Regions from separate parts of the Homo sapiens genome. Here regions 2, 3 and 4 are each reported to be linked to region 1. Evidence: microRNA targets listed by miRTarBase, many of them from high-throughput screens and not tested one by one. Region 1 holds a microRNA gene; each other region holds the end of a gene's coding sequence.
Evidence for each region. Region 1 holds the annotated microRNA hsa-miR-944 (AAAUUAUUGUACAUCGGAUGAG, at 2,222-2,243, opposite strand). A microRNA usually pairs through its seed, bases 2 to 8, with sites in the 3' UTR of a target mRNA and lowers its output. Matches are read on the target gene's strand: a 7mer-m8 pairs with bases 2 to 8, a 7mer-A1 pairs with bases 2 to 7 and ends in A, and an 8mer does both.

Region 2: miRTarBase lists SLC25A40 as a target of hsa-miR-944. Seed matches in the 3' UTR shown: 7mer-m8 at 605-611, 7mer-m8 at 1,508-1,514, 7mer-m8 at 2,386-2,392 and 7mer-m8 at 2,481-2,487.
Region 3: miRTarBase lists SPDL1 as a target of hsa-miR-944. Seed matches in the 3' UTR shown: 7mer-A1 at 910-916.
Region 4: the mRNA of CMPK1 is a reported target of hsa-miR-944. Seed matches in the 3' UTR shown: 7mer-m8 at 1,517-1,523.

Annotation. Positions count from the first base shown.
Region 1 is chr3:189,829,218-189,832,217 of GRCh38, reverse strand. MIR944 (microRNA 944) reads right to left here and starts at 2,296; the gene lies at 2,209-2,296. The region is part of intron 4 of TP63 (tumor protein p63); the gene reads right to left.
Region 2 is chr7:87,833,480-87,836,729 of GRCh38, reverse strand. SLC25A40 (solute carrier family 25 member 40) reads left to right here. Exons shown (of 12, transcript NM_018843.4): 12 at 369-3,162. The coding sequence ends at 481. Among named protein-coding and RNA genes, the nearest start is that of SLC25A40, 41 kb to the left of the region's middle.
Region 3 is chr5:169,603,545-169,606,794 of GRCh38, forward strand. SPDL1 (spindle apparatus coiled-coil protein 1) reads left to right here. Exons shown (of 12, transcript NM_017785.5): 12 at 516-1,234. The coding sequence ends at 663. Among named protein-coding and RNA genes, the nearest start is that of SPDL1, 21 kb to the left of the region's middle.
Region 4 is chr1:47,376,336-47,379,585 of GRCh38, reverse strand. It overlaps CMPK1 (cytidine/uridine monophosphate kinase 1), which reads right to left. Exons shown (of 6, transcript NM_016308.3): 6 at 747-2,882. The coding sequence ends at 2,841. Among named protein-coding and RNA genes, the nearest start is that of FOXE3, 38 kb to the left of the region's middle.

The DNA.
Region 1 (3,000 bases):
GTCATTTAGAAAAACCCCAAGAGGAGAAAAAAAATTAGGATGCTGACATCATCTGAAGATTCATTTCCCTCTATTAAAAGCATTATAGTGCTGGGCGTGGTGGATCATGCCTGTAATCCTAGCACTTTGGGAGGCCAAGGCAGGTGGATGATGAGGTCAGGCGTTCAAGACCAGCCTGACCAACATGGTGAAACCCTGTCTCTACTACAAATACAAAAATTAGGCGGGAGTGGTGGTGCATGCCTATAATCCCAGCTACTCAGGAGGTTGGGGCAGGAGAATCACTTGAACCCTGGAGGCGGAGGTTGCAGTGAGCCGAGATATCACGCCACCGCCCTCCAGCCTGGGTGACAGAGTGAGACTCCGTCTCAAAAAAAAAAAAAAAAAAAAAAAAAAAAAGAGCATAATAGCTTTCATGGCACATCAAGTTCTGGGACAAAAATTACACTGCCAGCTCTATGTGTTATAAATCAAAACCTACTACTTATCAGCCAAATACCACTTTAATTACAGTGTTCTCGTATTAGAGAAAGAAGATTAGGAAGGGTAGGAGCTCAAACGGTGCAGAATGGGAAGAGCTTCATGCTGCTATCATCAAATGAGCACCTGGCCAGAAAATCAGAGTCTGAACTCCACCATCTAGTAGCCTAAAGACTGGGGTTTGTCACTTTACCTGTGAGCTTCCGTGTCCTCATCCTCAACATGAAGATGAAGATAACAACACTGAACTTGGAGTGTGGTTGTGAAGCTCGAATGATATCATGGAAATGAAAATGACCTGTGCATATAAATGTATAAATAAAATCAGTATTTAAAAAGTAAATTAAGAAATACCCTCACAGCAAATTAGAAAACTGTCTGCCTATTTAATCTGCCCTCTGCAATAGATTTATAAAGTCAATCGATTAGACGGAAAATAAATAAGGATCAATAACCAACTCAAGTAGAAATATTTAAGAAAGAATGCAGGACCCAAGGAACCTCAAACAGCAGATTTCAATTAGGATCCTCCACATCAAAATTATAAGTGCTTTTGTTGTTGTCACAGATAGTGCAAGTCTGTTCTCACCTCATGAGACTCTGAACCCCTATGGGTTTTTATTTGAGGGGAAGTTGGCAGCATTGGCACTGGGAAGATAAACCACACCAACAACAGAAATACAGGCTGCCCTCGCAGTTACTACTTCTGGCCCATCTCATCCAGCAAAAGCTGGTAGAGGAACTTTGGTGTTTTTCCATTTCCCTAGTATTGTAGTGAGATAATTTTACACATTTGCAAACCTTAAATAATCCTACACAACTCCTTTGTGTTTAAATTGCCCTAGACCTTATAGGTGAGGTTTATTCTCCCTTTACATATTCATTCCCTTCTTCAAACAATATTTACTAAGTGTCTATATGCTCCCTTCCTCCTTCAAAGTCCCAAAGAAATTTAATAGTATCTTTATTTTTTCTTGCGTCACATATTAATTTTTCTGTTATGATAATTATGGGCCTTTATTTGTCTTCCCTGCCAAGAGACTATACATTTCTAAATGGAGACCTTACCTTATCCATCTTTTACTCAAGTGACAGGCATAATAAAACAACAGCAGCAGCAACAAAATTGCGTGTTATGTAAACAGAAATGATACTTGTGTAAAACAAGTAAATGAATATATTTGAGATAAGCATATCATTGTGGTTTGTGATGAAAACTCACTATGATGAAAGGAAAAGTGATGACTTTCAACTCCTGTTAGTAAACTGGAGGTTTTTCAGTCCAATAAAATTAATGCTGATATCCAATTTCCAATGGTTTCAGGATATACATTTTTTTTCAAATTTTATAGAATGAATTTTGTCTCTATCCCTTGCCATGAAAATCAGAGTTGCAGTAAGTCAAATTGAAGGTAGATGTGTTTTGTTTTGTTTTGTTTTTCAAACACACAAATTATCAATCTTTTGTATCAGGAACTCTGGCAGACTGTTACAACGGTAGCTCCTGACTACAATTTGTAAAGGTCTAGCTTTTTTCACTAGACAGATTCTCCTAGTCAGATCTCAAATCTGAACTCCAGATATACTTGAACTGTGTTTCTATAACCAACAGTCCAATGCTCTCTCACCAAAGCCCCATTCCCCATCCTATTCCAACCCTACTAAATGACCGTTGGCCTTTCTTTCCAGTGTTCAAGAAAATGAAGGTTACAGTGGAGCTAATACTTAATCCCAGACACAGCTCATCCGATGTACAATAATTTCTCTTTATACAATTTAAGAAAATATTGTATATCAGATGAGATGTGTCTGGAACATAAATACAAATTTACTGCAGAAAAATTGTTTATCTTGGTTGAAAAAAATTAAGGTTATATTGGTCTGGTAATGAAATAATTAAAAGGGCTAATATTTGAAAAAAACTGTCAGCAGTATAGAAATCTTTGAAACTGAATTTGTTAGTTGGTGAAAAAGTAATGGCAAAACCTGCAATTATTTTTGCACCAACCAAATAGTTAGAAGTGAAGTAAATTTTTATTTTTCTTTAAGAGCTCCAAACTTTCCAGAATCTTTTTCTCTTCTAAGTCCTCGCCAGACTCTAGGCTTTTAGTACCCTGCTCCTCCAAATCTAGTCTCTGCCCATTCCTTAGTTCCAAAGCTGTTTCCACATTTTCAGTGAAATAAACTTTCATAGAAGCCATTCCAAATACTTCCAGTTATAACTCTAAAATAACACGTGCTGTTCTCCAGCTCTTCCACTTCCTCCCCTAAGATCTGAGACAAATAATCCAGTAGACATATAGGGAAAGTAGATTTTCTAAGAATTGATAGTTGGATGCTAACTTGTTTACATGGGTCTAGTTTTCAGAATAAATGCTTAAAACTCATATTTAGTGTCAATTAGGGCAATCTCTGTAGTGTATTGCTCAGAAACAGCATGTTCAAGGCATGAAAGCAGGAAGAAACATTTAAATGATTTCCTGAATCCTCTTTTAAGATGGTTGGGTCTTGGGTCTGTAG
Region 2 (3,250 bases), not on the chromosome of region 1:
GTAAAAATACTTGCTTTACCGAATCATTGAATAGAATGATTACTTTTAAAATATTACCTTCTAAAATTAACTTATAGGAGGAAGTTATAGGTAACATACTACATTTATTTTCTCCTAAATATCTTTATTATAAGTTAAAATAAATGTTAAATAAAAGATTTACTATCAATAAGATAAAAATTTCTCTATAATGTAATATGGATTGAAGTGAGGATGTTGGAAGTGAGCAGTCTTTTCTACCAATTTATGGATTTGAACATATTACTTCATTTAATTTGATAATTATCAGAATAAAGCCAAAAAATAATATTTTTAAAAATAAGGTAAGAAAAAAATATTTGTTTTGATTATTCCTATTCTTTTCTCAGGCCTAATTCCTCGCTTAATTAAAATTGCTCCTGCTTGTGCCATTATGATCAGTACATATGAATTTGGAAAGGCTTTTTTCCAGAAACAAAATGTTCGAAGGCAGCAATACTAGTGATGCTGTTTCAACTTGAAACAACAACTATAGCCAAAGAAGATGGAGACTCTTAGGCAAGAATGTTTTTCACCATTATTCTCTCACAATGATTTTATGTCTTTCTTTCCTATAATTTAAATAAATAATTTCAGCTCTACCTCTAAATCATAATTTTAAAATAAATTTTATCTTATTTTTGGTGATATTGAAAAAGATATTCTAGAAATCACCACCATTGAGCATTCTTGTAAAAATAGATTACTCCTTAGCATCAAAAGCAGTCTCTTGAAAGTTTAATATTATATGTTTCAGTGTAACATAATCTTACTGGGAGTGTGTTGAATACACCAGAACTTTTTGAATTGTGTGCTGAATGATGTACATAGTCTAGAAGAAAAAAGCCCAAGTCTTGTGCACATTTAAATCGTGTACATAAGTATTTCCGTATTTCAGTAAAGTAGATAAAGCACTCGTTAAATAGCATTGTTTACATCGACCAAATATTGCCTGTTTCCTTTAATTCAAATGCATTAGGTTCCCGCCTCCCTCTCCTTCCCCGCCATGTTGCTGTTTTAAGGCTTCATATGTATTAACATTTCTCTGATCAAAATTGTGGCTGTTTTCCTTATGAACCATAATATAATCATTTGTGTGATGTACATTGTGCCATTTTTGATGACTAAATGTCTATATTTCTGCCATTCCTGTAAGAGAGGGAGTTTTTTACTGATAGTAGCAAATGTTCACTTCAGTCAAACTTGGGTGTTCAGTGGTAAACCATATAGTATTTAGACTGGTAAAAATAGTTTGCACACAGGAATAGCCTCTGATTTTTAGCTCTCTTGTAATCCAAGTATCATTGTTCATGGAATTCTCTAGGTCATTTTTATTGTGTTGTTCTAACAAGACAGATTATTGCTACAACAATAGTTACAAGATATTTCTAAAATATCCTTTGATTTTTACTCTAAGTATGGTAGAGTAAGAGGCTAAACAAGAAGCTGTTTCCTTGAAGACATTGCTTTCAGTCACCATACATGTCTAAATAATTTAGCTTATCATTCATTCTATGTAGGAATGAGATAAGAAAGGATATGATGGCAGGAAAAGAAATGCTATTCATTTTTTATACTTTAGTTTTATTTTCTTAGGATCTATATCCTATATATATATATTTTTTAAAGCACTAATTTATTGCAGTCTTTATTTTAGAAAAATGTGAAGCATTTTTTTCTCCCCTAAAATGAATATATTTAGATGACAAGTCTTTAGTGCTGGTAGAGGAACTAATTGATTTTGTACTATAGTAGGAAAGTGTTTATATGTTTCACCAGAAATAAAATATGTAGGGTTTGTATGTAATCTTCTGTGTTTATCCTATGTTGATTTACCTTAAATTTGCAACATACATATCCACATAAATATTCATGACTTTCTTATATTTCATTAAAATGTTTTATGGCTTCTTAAAATCATCACTGTGCTTCTAAATATTTTTACGTAAAATCATTGTATAATGCTATACTGTGATATACATGAAAGTTTATCTTGAACAGTGCTCTTTAACAATATTAAATTTAAATTTATCTTGGTTTTGCTATGCTTATGGGTAATTCATAGAAAACAGAAAAAATACTGTTCCCAAAAGGCAGTTATATATTTCAGTTTAATATCACCTATAAGTATGAGAAAGGTTTCCATGTCTCCTACCCCTCACTGCACTTAGGAAAATTCTTATTTATGAATAAAGTAAGATAAGTAAATCTAATTGCCTAGTCGTTTTTTTAACACATATACATGCAATGTATCTGGATGAATAGAAGGCTGAATTGAAGCTTTCTTTATATTTAAGAGGTAAAAAGAAATATTAATACTTTTAAAATATACTAACAACCAAAAAGTGTTCAGAATTTTGCTATAATAATAATTTGTATTAAAATAGTACCTAGAAAAATTCAGTCTATGGAATAGGTAAAATTTTAAAATTTTAATTTGCTCTCAGAGTTCTGTCTGATAAAATAATTGAACTATAATTGGCATGATGAATATTCCCAGGTTTTACTTCAGTATATAAATTTAACTCTCAGCCACATGGGCTTTCCAGACTTTTCAATACATATGATGTTGCAGGAATTGCAATATTTGCAAACATGTGCCACAACAGTGTTCTTGGTGATGTTTCTAAAACAGTTTTTATTCTATTAATGTTAAATTTTCTAACATAAACATTTAATTGATTAATGTAAAATTTTAGGAAGGAACATCTTTAATTTTCAATATGAGATGGTTGCAACCTTTAAAGTAGTACATATTTGATTTTTTTTAAAAGGCAATATTTTTTTTTCTAGGAAAACTATTCATTATGGTTATTTAACTGCATATGTTTTTTAAATTTTTCCCTCTTGGAACAACATGTACTGGGGCCTATCAAAGGGTGGAGGGTGGGAGGAGGGAGAGGAACAGGAAAAATAACTAATGGGTACTAGGCTTAATACCTGGGTGATGAAATAATCTGTATAATAAATCCCCATGACACAAAAGTTTACCTGTGTAACAAACCTGCATATGTACCCCTAAACTTAAATTCTTCCCTCTTTTTGTCTTGGGCACAAGTTTTTGGGATATGGAAAAGTTTATTGTATCCCTTTTGAATTTTCTTCTAAGATGAACTTTTTAAATAAAAGATATTACTGCTTTTATATTTAATCTGTCAACATTTATTGGGACATTTTATGTAGTAGGCAGTATATAAAAAGCACTGGAGATGATAAGATATTTCAGATATTG
Region 3 (3,250 bases), not on the chromosome of region 1:
AAGATATTCTTTAGACTTAAAAAATAATTGGCCCAGCGTGGTGCCTCACACCTGTAATCCCGGCACTTTGGGAGGCTGAGGCAGGTGGATCACGAGGTCAAGAGATCAAGACCATCCTGACCAACGTGGTGAAACCCTGTCTCTACTAAAAATACGAAAATTAGCTGCATGTGGGGGTGCGCACCTATAGTCCCAGCTACTCCGGTGGCTGAGGCAGGAGAATCGCTTGAACCCGGGAGGCGGAGGTTGCAGTGAGCCGAGATCATGCCACTGCGCTCCAGCCTGGTGACAGAGTGAGACTCTGTCTCAAAAAGTAATAATAACAATAATTGAGCCTATTGATATAAAAAGACTTTTAGACAGCCAGTGACTTAATATTCTTACAGTATTAGAGTCAACTATATTTTTTTTCCTTGAATACCATGCCTTATTGGAGGCCCATTATACTGGGGGTTTGTTTCTTCAATCCTTCATAACCACATTTGAATTCAGAGTGGATGCTTTAATGCCTGTAGGTTAGCTGCTGAATCAAAGCTTCAAACAGAAGTTAAAGAAGGAAAAGAAACTTCAAGCAAATTGGAAAAAGAAACTTGTAAGAAATTACACCCTATTCTATATGTGTCTTCTAAATCTACTCCAGAGACCCAGTGCCCTCAACAGTAAAGACTTGTCTTTAATAAGAGTACGGTGCCACTTGCCTCAAAAGTTACTATGGTGCTTAAGATTGTCTTGATCTGACATATATCACCTTCTGGGTTATTTACTCATTGTGCCAGGACCTGGCATTTTCATGTGCCTTTGACCAAGTGTTCAGAATTTGCTTGACTCTAACCTGGAGAGCTTCTTAAGTGATGCCCCTTCATGGAGCTTCTATGACAGTGAATAAACTATTAATTGAAGGAAAATGTTATAATTAATGTATCTATTTGCTGCATTGTATATGGATTAAATGATAAAAAACAAGTAATCTACCCTCAGAGCCATGTATTTGAGAATGCTTCAATCATATTTTCCTATGTACTTTTTTTTATAAACTTAGTTTTAGACTATGTTGTAAAAATGGGAAGGTTGTAAACTATGTTGTAAAAATAGGAAATGTGGCTTAAAATATATACATTATATTGTTTCAGGATTTTGTCAGTGTTTAAAGAACCAATGTTCATCTTTGTATTTATATACATGATTTAAATTTTGTCTAAAATTTTAAATAAAACTGCAGTGATTTATCCTTAAATTTCTTACTCTCTATAGGTAACAGGATGTTATCAAAAGGGAGTAAAAAGCACTTTGGGAGGCTGAGGCGGGTGGATCGCTTGAGCCCAGGAATTCGAGACCAGCCTGGGCTACATGGCAAAACCCCATATCTACAAAAAAATACAAAAAATTAGCTGGGCATGATGGTGCACACCTGTAGTCCCAGCTACTCTGGAGGCTGAGGTGATAGGATCATCTGAGCCCAGTAAGGAGGTCGAGGCTGTAGTTGAGCTGTGATCATACTACTGCACTCCAGCCTGGGCAACACAGCAAGACCCTGTCTCAAAAAAAAGTGGGGGAAATAAATAAGAGGAAAAAAGAAACCTCAGGAATTCTTAATTCCCTTATGTATAATTTTATATATAATTTTATGGTTAATTATATGTACATATACAGATGGTCTCTGACATAACAATGGTTTGACTTAATGATTTTTCGACTTTTCAGTGGTACAAAGACAGTATGCATTCAGTAGAAACTGTACTTCAAGTACCCATATGACCATTCTGTTTCTCACTTTCAGTACAGTACTCAATAAATCACATAAGATATTCAACACTTTATGACAAAATAGACTTTGTGTTAGATGATTTTGCCCAGTAGTAAACCAATGTAAGTTTTCTGAGCACATTTAAGGCAGGCTAGGCTGAGCTATAATGTTCATTAGGTTAGGTGTATTAAATGCATTTTTGACTTAATATTTTCAACTTATGGGTATATCGAATTGTAACCCCGTTGTAGGTCAAGGAGCATCTGCATATATACATACATAGATGATAGATAGATAGATAGATAGATAGATAGATAGATAGATTTAATTCTAAACTTTCCAAATACTCTTTCATTTAAATGATTATAGTTTTACAACAATTTCATATATTCTATAGGTAGGAGAATTAGGGTTTTCCAGAGAAATAGAACCAATAGGATGTGTGTGTATATAAAGATTTACTTTCAAGAATTGGTTCACATGGTTGTGGGGGCAAGTCCAAACTTGTAGGGTGGGCCAGCAGACTGGAGACCAGGGAAGGGAAGAGCTGATGAGTTCAAGTCCGAAAGCCATCACACTAAAGACCCAGGGAGATAACTGCCACTGCAGTTCAAGTTCAAAGGCTGTCTGCATCAGAATTTCCCTTTGCTGGGGTAGGTGAGTCTTTCCATCTAGGACTTCAATTCATTGGATGAAACCCATTCACATTAGAGAAGGCAATCTGCTTTAAGTCCACTGATTTAAATGCTGATCTCACCCAAAAACATCCTCACAGAAACGTTCAGAATAACACTATAAAGCAATTAGACCTAAAGAAATATGTAGCATACTCCACCCAAAGGAGAATACACCTTCTTAAGTGTACACAGAACATTGTGCAAAACAGACCAATGTTATGCCACAAATCTGGTCTCAATAAATTTTAAAAGTTGAAAAAGTATCTCGACTACAATGGAATGAAATTAAAAATCAACAACAAGAAAATCTGGAGAATTCACAAATACTATGTAGAAATAAAACAATACACTCTTTAAACAGCAGATGAATCAAAGAAGAAATCACTAGGGAAATATTTTGAAGATGAATTTTAAAATATTTTAAAATGAGTGAAAATGAAAACACAACAATAACAAAACTTGTTAAGTGTAGCGAAAGCAAAAGCCCTCAGTGGGGAATTTATATTTGGAGATGCCTACATTTTAAAAAAGAAAGCTCTCAAACTAATAACCTAACTTTATACTTTGAGGAACTAAAACAAGAAGAGAAAACTAAAAAGCTAAATCCACGGCCAGCAGAAGGAAGAAAATAAGAGATGAGAACAAAAACAAATGAAATTGAGAACACGAAAACAATGGAATCTATGGAACCTAAAGTTTGTTCTTTGAAAAAATCAAAATTAATAAACTTTTAGCTAGACTGATCAAGGAAAAAGGAGAAAAGACTCAAATTACTAAAATAAGGAATGGAAGTAGGGACAATACTGTCAATCTTATAGAAGTAAAAGGG
Region 4 (3,250 bases), not on the chromosome of region 1:
CTTAAGCCAAAACACAAAAACAGGATGAAAAATTTTCCTCAATCCTGTAAAGCAAAAATAAAATTCTAAGCGCCCCCACAACCATCTGAATGGACCCTTCCTCTAGGCCAAGGGCATTCCAGAGTTCATCTGAAAAACCAGTTTCAGGCCATCATGGGGAAGGGAGAGCCAGACATGCCTCATTATACTTCTCCTCCCTTTTGAAATTACTGATAGAACACACTCTTAATAAGAAGCATTTACAGTCTATTTTCTCTGAAGCCTGCTACCTGAAGGCTTCATCTGCATGATAAAACCTTGGTCTCCAACAAACCTTGTATCAACCTAGACGTTCCTTTCTATTTATAGTAACTCTTTCAACCAATTGCCAATCAGAAAATCTTTAAATCTGCCTAAGGCTTGGAAGCTTTCCCCACACCTGCTTCCAGTTGTCCCACCTTTCTGGACTGAACCATGTATACATCTTACATGTATTGTCTGATGTCTCATGTCTCCCTAAAATGTATAAAAACAAGCTGCACACCGACCACTGTATGCACTTGTTCTCAGGATCTCCTAAGGGCTGTGTCACAAGCCACTCATCACTCATATTTGGCTTAGAATAAATCTCTTCAAATATTTTACAGAGTTTGACTCTTTGCATCGACAGTCCTGAACTCTGCTTTTGTAGTGTGAGGACCCACATGTTAAATAGGATACTTCTTGATCTTCAATATGCTTAGAGAACAGAAATCTAAACCAACAAATAGCAAAGGCCACAGCACAAAATTTATTGAGATTATTTACTAAATAACTGATATACATCCAACATCACTGAATGGAAATAATTTAAAAATAAGCAAGGCTTAAATTGGGGTCTTTCAAAAAACTCAAAACATTCTTGGTGACTGTATCTTTAACAAATGGAATGACAAAACTAGTTAAGTCATATTATCTCAATCAACTCCAAAACTCAATGTTGCCAACATGTTTTTCTACTTAAAAGCAAACAAAAAGCAAAGCCTCATAATTTAGTAATTACCATGTTTCTTGGTTTCTGTTCTCAAATGCCACAGAAAGATACCTGATGAAAGGAAGCAAAGCACCTAGTCTCATCAGTCTTCTTCAAAACTTTAAGGTTGCTTTCACAATCTCACTATAAATATTTAGATTCCTATCTGACAGATTTCTTCACTTATGTGAGTAGGAATGCTCTCGAAACCTTAGTCTTTACTCTTGCTTCATACTAGAGCTGTTTGATTAAACCACCTCTGTATTTGCTGGCCTGCAACACTAGATAAGAACTCATTCCTATCTCTTCCAAGAAACCAAGATAATCTCAATATGAATTTTAGTGGCCAATATGTTATAGTACTTAGCAATACTTTGTTTTCTAATGGCAAGTATGTTGAAAAATTTATCATTAAGTGAATTTCATAACACATAGAAATAAATGATTCTATTAAAATATAAAAACATCCATTAACTTGTCCTATTTCCAGTGACTTTAAATATCAAATCTATTATACAAAGACAAAATTATTTGCCCTATTTGACCCTGTGTACCAAATGATGTAAGTGCTGAAAATAAGAAACATTTTAAGATTTTAAATCTCATATTAAGAACCTCGGATACCACTTAGCATTGTGACAGAAGAAAAAAAAGTAAGGCGAAAACAAATTCCTCAGAGATTTTTAAAGGAAGAATTGGTGTAAAAGAATATTCCTTTGGACTCTATAGCCTTTTAAAAATCATTTATCTTTCGGTGCTTCAACATGATGCCAAACAAAAATCTACTGAATAAAAATAGCAAGGAAGGGAATCAAACATTTATAAGATATATTTATTATTTTTCTGACCAAAGTGCAATGATTTTTAAATCTTTTTAAACAAATAACTATGAAAAAAGTATTCAAGAAAATAAAATACAAATGGGAAATTTAACTAGATTGCTTCTTCTAATTAATCCTAAGCTTTTATTAAGTCTAGAAAACAAACAAAAAAAAACCTTTGAAGTGTTACTAAAATGCTAACTGAGAATCATTTTAGCATAAATCTAGCCACATGCATTTCAAGGTTCCACTGCTACGAATTTTGTTAAGATCAGCTGAATCATGAATAACACTATATAATAGAGTATAAGGAACACAAGCATTAGATGTGATCCTTGCCCCATACCCTTAGATTATGTCAGACTAAAGCTGACAATTCTGCCAGGCTCTGAACCCCTAGTGCCCCCAACCCAAATCTTGGAAGCAAAGAATATGCCCTGTCATACAACTTTGTACAAGTTGTAGTAAAACAAAGCTTAAGTTTTCTCATCTTTCTACAGCAAATGGTCAGTTATTTAATAAACACTAAAATGCTCCTAAGAATCCATTTTGAGTTTGTTTACCAAACACATTGTGCAAGAACTGACTACACAAAAAGTTCCTTTGAAATTTGGTCCACAAATTCACTTAAGGTTGGAAATTTAAAACTTGCAAGAAAAAGAGGAAGCGGGTATCCCTAAATCCTAAAATGTTGTGATTACTAGAGGGATATATACGCGTACTAAAAAGTTTTGCTCACAGAAGGCACAAACTATAAAAGGGATATTCTTTTTGAATTTTAAAAAAAATAGCTGATACCCTTCGTTTGGTGAGCACCATAACTAAGGTGAAGTTAAACCTGAATTCACTGTCTACTCCTGTGACCAAAAAAAAGAACATAAAAAAATTTACTTTGTTTTACCATGTACTTTCCAGCCACTAATTGAGATGTAGTTATGAAAGATTAGAATTGCCTTAAAAAGGGGTCATGATAGCAGCTATCAAAGCAATATTCAAGCATGATTTCAAGGATGCCTTCAGGTTTAGAATTAGCCTTCCTTGTCAAAAATCTGCACAACTTCATCAAAAACCTGTAAAGGAAAAAGATGATAATAATTTTAAAAGCAGGTACTGTTAAAATACCATACAGCTAAGTTCTTATTAAAAATAATCAAATTTGGCGGGGCGCGGTGGCTCACATCTGTAATCCCAGCACTTTGGGAGGTCGAGGCGGGCAGATCACTTGAGTTCAGGAGTTCAAGACCAGCCTGGCCAACATGGCAAAACCCCGTCTCTACTAAAAATACAAAAATCAGCCAGGCGTGGTGGCGGGCACCTGTAATCCCAGCTACCCAGGAGGCTGAGGCAGGAGAATTACTTGAACCCAGGAGACGGAGGTTGCAGTGAGCTGAGATCACACCATTGCACTCCAGCCTGGGCAACAGAGTGAGACACTGTC